Regions from separate parts of the Homo sapiens genome. Here region 2 is reported to be linked to region 1. Evidence: microRNA targets listed by miRTarBase, many of them from high-throughput screens and not tested one by one. Region 1 holds a microRNA gene; the other region holds the end of a gene's coding sequence.
Evidence for each region. Region 1 holds the annotated microRNA hsa-miR-4458 (AGAGGUAGGUGUGGAAGAA, at 2,163-2,181, shown strand). A microRNA usually pairs through its seed, bases 2 to 8, with sites in the 3' UTR of a target mRNA and lowers its output. Matches are read on the target gene's strand: a 7mer-m8 pairs with bases 2 to 8, a 7mer-A1 pairs with bases 2 to 7 and ends in A, and an 8mer does both.

Region 1 (3,260 bases):
CTTTGAGAGTCTAGGCAATTTCACTTGGGTTCTGTGATTAATTTGCAAAGTATTAGGATGAAATCAAGAAACCTGCAGTTTTAATTGAATTGACTTTGGTTTTGTTTCTCAAAAAGTGGGACAACAAAAATACCTACTTAAGACTACTGTTTCAGGCACTGTCTAATTGCATTCATCAGATCTTATTATATTCATTCCATGAGGAATCGAAGACCTATTCAGTCAAGCAGCAGCCCAAGGTTACACGTCTAATAAAGGGCACATTCCCAGATCAAGCCCATGTAGGCTGACTCTAGATTCTGATTTTGAACTGCTCTGTTTCTGAATTGGAGTTTAACTCCTCTGTTACCCCTAGATTAATGGTGAGTATTTTCTCTCACCCAAGTTAATTCCATTAACTCTAATCAGAACCCTAATTTAGCATATTTCCAGTACAGTAGTTGCGGATCCATCCTACTCTAGAGTTTTTGTGCTATGTGTTAACTGTCTTTTATAAATGAAGGGACGGCTTCCTCTGTAACATACGGGAGCATTGTATAATCTTTGAACAGGCAAAAGCATTCCAGAGAAAAGATAGATGAATTTCATATATTTTTATTAAAACAATTTTATTAAAACATAGATAAATACTGGATTATTTAAGCAAGTTGCAGTCTATGTAGGTTAACCACTAAGCTATGCTTCCTCTCTTTGCATGCGTGTGTGTGTATACGTGTGTTTTTCCTAAAGATACATCAAGGCTTAGTACTTTCACAATGAGTTAAGTCCTGCGCTGTGCCTTGAAAGATGAAGGGAGGGAGTTAGAGGCAAAGATGAATTAACAGGTTAACAGGATCCGGGTCCAAGTCCTTAGATGCCTATTAAAGAGTTCAGGCTTCACTCTGCGGGAAGTAGGAAGATTTTTGAAAGACTAAGTACTGGAAGGACATGATCAGGTTTGCAACTTAGAACTATCACTGTGGCTGCAGACCTAAGAGTAGACGAGAAGGGTGGGTAGAAAGGTTAGGAAACTACATTTTCCGAAGAAAAACATGGAAAGAACTGAAAGGGTGATCCTGGAGTCAGAGCCAGGTAGAGAGTTTAGGGATTTAAGGAGGATTTGGTAAGAGATTTATTGTGAATCCTACATCCTAAAATTTTAATGTTTTTTTTTCTTTTCTAGAGATGATAAATAGCCAAAGACGTCAATGGCACCCATGGACATAGTAAGCATAGTAGGAGCTGAAAAACTAGAAGCAATGACAATGTCAACTATTTTGAGCAAAAAGAAGCAGTGTCTTCGGAACATTTGATCATAAAACCAGAAATTAAAGGATGAGAAAAACATTTTTCTGAAGCTTATACTTTCACATTTCCTAGAGAGCATATTTGTGTGGATGGGGGTGGGTAAACACTCAACAAAAGTTTCTTTAAAAAGAAGAAACCATCCTGGTTTGATGTAATCAATGGTTGCCCACTGCTCCCTTCCTGTGCCTGTGACCCTTCCCAAACTGCCCTGTTGCTTGCAGGCTCGCCTGAGCTGAAAGGCAGCCCTCACATCCCGTCGGCACCTCCCTGGGGCCTTCTTTACACCCTGGAGAACTTCACAGGGAATCTGTGTCTGTAACACAAAGGCTTCCTGGTCCAGATGTAGATACTAAGGCTGACTGGTTATTTAAGTCCTGCGGACTTACTCTGCCAAAATTATTTAATCATGTAAAAATAATTTATAATTCTTATAAAGTATCCCCTTCATAATATAATGAATGTTGGTGCTATTACATTTAAGTGCACATGTACAGTATACAAGATTATTAATAATAATGTTTTCAAATAGTTATTGTCAAAGCTATTTTTCTTATGTTTATGAAAGTGCTTATAAAATTCATGTTTTATGAGGCTGGAGATGTATATTTTGTAATTTCATTCTGATATTTGTTAATATTCGCTTCCAATGCTGGTTTTGTTTGATGAGACTGACATTGCCTAATTTCAAGCTTTTTGAATGTGTATTCTTTCAGGGCAAGTATGAAATAACTAGTAAAAAATATACAAATATGCTTAACAATAAGTAGACTTTCTCACATTGATTACTTACAACAGCTTTATGTGGGGTGAATCAGATGCCTGTATTACAGAAGCATCTAATGCAAAGCAAAATAAAAACACTTGCATGAGCGCACAGAGGTAGGTGTGGAAGAAAGTGAAACACTATTTTAGGTTTTAGTTACACTCTGCTGTGGTGTGCTGCCTAGTATTTGCAGGTTAATGCAAATACTAGGGGTTATGAATTGTTTCTAAGTTTATTATTAAAAATAGCCTTGCTTCATTTCTTCCTAAAATGGAGACAAATATGTATAGTGTCTGTGTTACCAGTATGTGTAAGAGTAATATCTTAATGCGTGTAAAATGTTTATAGGAACCTGTATTTCAAAGAGCTATTTTTGCAAGTGACACTATCCTTTTAAGAAACTTTTTTATTCAAACTTTTTCCTCCATTTATAACTATTCTATTATTTCTTAATGTTCAGAACCCTTTTCATTATCTATAAGGTTAAATTTTAGGTAAGTAATGAGAAAATAATAATATGTGGAGAAGAAATGAGTGAGGAGTCGAGATGTGTGTCAATCAAGAATGAGTTTGTCAGCCCTTGTATTATGATTTTACTCGGGAGGGGATAATTATTGAAGGATGTAATGTAAGGGCAGTGATACTATATGGTATGTAAGACTGTTAAAATCACTGAGGTAAGCTATTACTTGAACTAAGCATAGAAATAGAGACAGATTTTTAATGCATTTAATTATCAAAATATCTAAATTAAAGATTTGATGTGGTTGTTCACTGGAAACAAATGGCAGACAAACAGAATATTTCTTGGAATCATAAATGACATCATCCTGTCTCCAACTTTCTGTGTAGCTTCTTTCTTTAGTTGGTCTTTGCTTAGATTTCCCTGTGTCAGAGACGACTTCCCTGGATATCAGTGACAGTTATTGATTGCTCATGCTATGAACTCCTCCCATTTCTCAGCCCTCTTGCAGTAGGTGGGGCCATGGTACTAGTTGTGGCTTATTGCTTAAAGACTTTAAGGCTCCATGTGTGACTTTCCAGCTCTGGTCCACTGCTACTGCGGCTCTGGCAGGACTAGGGAGGTGCCCCGTGTCTCAGATGGTGCAGCCTCCATCCAGCTGTGTCCCTGAATGACTAGAGCACAGCCACTGGTGACCTGTGGTGGACGTAGAATGTGGGTAAGAGATAAACTTATGCTACACCGCTG
Region 2 (3,000 bases), not on the chromosome of region 1:
TAGGAAGGAATTAGTATACGTATCAGGTGTATAAATGGTTTAAATTTATTTTAACATGTCAGATGTGTTCAAGTTGTCATATAAATAAACTATGTATGTAAGGAATGGGTTAAAAGCTGTTCTGCTGAGAAACTGAAGCTATTTAAGTATATAACAAGTTTTAGTATTGATTTTTAAGTTAGATGTTACACATCTTTGATTTTCAAGTTATGTCAGATAGTAGATATGAATTGTTTACTTAAAAAAATACATGTAACAATCTACGTGAAAGCTAGCTTCATAAAAAACTCTAGGAAGACCTTCTTGTGCTAACAATCAACAATCTGTTCAGCTACACTTGGTCAGCTACATTTGATAATTTGATATGTATGCACAAAATAACGTAGTGAACAAATGTGTTTTAACTAATGTCTCAATATATCTAGTGTAAGCTGGGTATTTTGCATTAACCACTTCTTTTCTGTGAGGTAATTATACCACACTTGCCAAGGGGATTTCTCTACAGAAGCTCTCAAACTGATCTTACCTTGCTATACAACATAGTAGCCTATCAATACTGGTAAAACAATCTTTTAGAAGCCATGATCTGAATTCACAGAGTAAATGAGTTTCTGAATCTACATTACCTGTTTTTGAGGTGAAGGAATAGAGGGATGGAAGAAATGCTTCCAGTTCATCAGCATTTTTATTGGATGGCATAGCTCCATTAGATTTTCTCCCTTTTCAATTTATAGGTAAACTGCATTCCAAAAAAAAACCCCACCATGCACCTCCTTGGTTATGTAATCACATTCATTAAGAAACAGTGCTGTCTGAATAGTTACAGAGTAAGCAAATGTATTAAATAGGTATTCTAATAGGGCTGAAGTAAAATGCTATTCTTGTATTTGAACAGGAAGTCATCTTGGCTATCCTTCACAGCCGAATTGTAATCCCACATTGCTTTTCTCACCCATCCTCTGCCGTATACCTAAATAATACAACTATTAGCATCACCACAAAGCCATTTAAATAATATTTGTAGTGGGTCTCAAAGTAGATAACAGAGTAAAATATACTGTAATTGAATATAGTTGTACTTACAACCTGGTAGTATTTACCTGGAGAGAAAAAAATGGTACAGGCTTCCTAATGTTTGTTTGTCAATTTGGATGGCTGTACAGTCATGGAAGTGCCTTCTATAACCAGTTGGTCAGTTTGCTAAACTAAACAATTCATTTGCTAGTTTAGCTTTTGTCTTATCAGTACAGCAAATCTGTTTTCTACCTCTGCTTCCTAAGTTCTTTCTACCACCTTTTCCTCGACTACAAACTGATAGATGTACTCTAAACTTGGATATAAGCACTAGCAGCCCTTCAGACATGTTTTAGATTTCAGATTCCTCCTTAGAGGTAACAAGGGGAGAAAGTGCTTCATTCTCTTTTCTAGCACCCTGCACAAATACCTAGAGGCGAACAAACCACACTATCAAAACCTCATGACCACCTCTCAGTGCGAGCTTCAATCTTCCAATTGATGGTGATTCAAGCATAAAATTCCAAAACTTTTATGGAGAAGACTAATTATAAGGGCAATTTTTTATAAGATTTTAGGGCATCTGTCTTGAAACTTTTTTCTTTTAAATAGAGATGGGATGTTGCCCAGGCTGGTCTTGAACTCCTGGGTTCAAGCAGTCCTCCTGCCTCTGCCTCCCAAAGTGCTGGGATTACAGGTGTGAGCCACCATGCCTGGCCATTTGTCTTGTTTTCTATACTATTCAAATCATCAAGTAAGCCAGCTGTTTATAATCCACATGAATTATTTTAATAGTTACTTCGAGATACTCCATGGTACTATACAAAAAGCATGATCATGAACATTAAAGCTGATGGCAGGAAGAATTTATGACGTCCAGAGACAAAATGAATTTAAATCATTTATTTTCACTTATTACTAATCTTACTACAGAGAATAATACAATACTATAATGTATCATCCTCAGTAAATTAATCTTCACTTAGAAAATGTTACTGATAAAATACAACATTTAGAATTTTCATTTAAAAATACAAATTTTATGAAAATATTAAGAATTTTTAGGATGGGAATTATAAAAGTCAATGCTGAACAAAATTCTACTTTTAGATAGTATGTATCTTAAAATATTATGAAAAATATTCTTTATTCTGAAAACAATGTCAGGAAAGAATACCTGAGTTCTCTAAAACCACTAGTTCTAATTTCAAATTGCTGTTTTGGTAACATAAAGAAAACACATTTACAATTTAACACTGCAGTTACCTGTCAAATAATTAGAATAGAATAAATGTTGCATATACATTAGGTTGAACATTATATATATTTTAAAACACAGGGTGGTTTCATTTAATCTTTTGGTGAATTGGATCATAAGTCCTACATTCTAAAACCATCTGGAAACATTTTTCTGGTAGCCCTGAAAATCCATTCTGATGCCTTATCAGTAGTCATTATGACCAAATGACATTAGTATTTTGTGGCCTTGATAGTTTATACAACTTAATATATTTGAAGGTGTGATGAAGTGGCTCCATCCTTCCATTTGTTTATATGGTCTGAAATCACAGTTCTGCAGAGTGGACATGTTTTCTCTCTGTTAAACCATAAGGTCATGCACTCTTCACAAAATATATGCTGTAATGGAATTAAGAATTAGATTTGATATTTGATAATCATTTTAAATCCATCACATTGTAGGGAATGAAAGGGATTCTTTTTTTTTTTTTTTTGAGATGGAGACTGAAGTCTTGCTCTGTCACCCAGGCCGGAGTGCAATGGCACCATCTCGGCTCACTGCAACCTCCGCCCCCGACTGGTTCAAGTGATTCTCCTGCCTCAGCCTCCCAAGTTGCCGGGATTACAGGTGACCACCACCACCATGCCCAGCTAGTTTTTTTATTTTTAGTAGAGACAGGGTTTCACCATGTTGGTCAGGCTGGTCTTGAACTCCTGACCTCAGGTGATCCACCCACCTCAGCCTCC

Region 2: miRTarBase lists RNFT1 as a target of hsa-miR-4458. The part of its 3' UTR that is shown has no 7-base or 8-base seed match.

Annotation. Positions count from the first base shown.
Region 1 is chr5:8,458,771-8,462,030 of GRCh38, forward strand. MIR4458 (microRNA 4458) reads left to right here and starts at 2,155; the gene lies at 2,155-2,229. MIR4458HG (MIR4458 host gene) reads left to right here. Exons shown (of 2, transcript NR_039989.1): 2 at 1,163-3,260.
Region 2 is chr17:59,950,460-59,953,459 of GRCh38, forward strand. RNFT1 (ring finger protein, transmembrane 1) reads right to left here. Exons shown (of 9, transcript NM_016125.4): 9 at 1,781-2,652. The coding sequence ends at 2,518. RPS6KB1 (ribosomal protein S6 kinase B1) reads left to right here. Exons shown (of 15, transcript NM_003161.4): 15 at 1-115. Among named protein-coding and RNA genes, the nearest start is that of RNFT1, 13 kb to the right of the region's middle.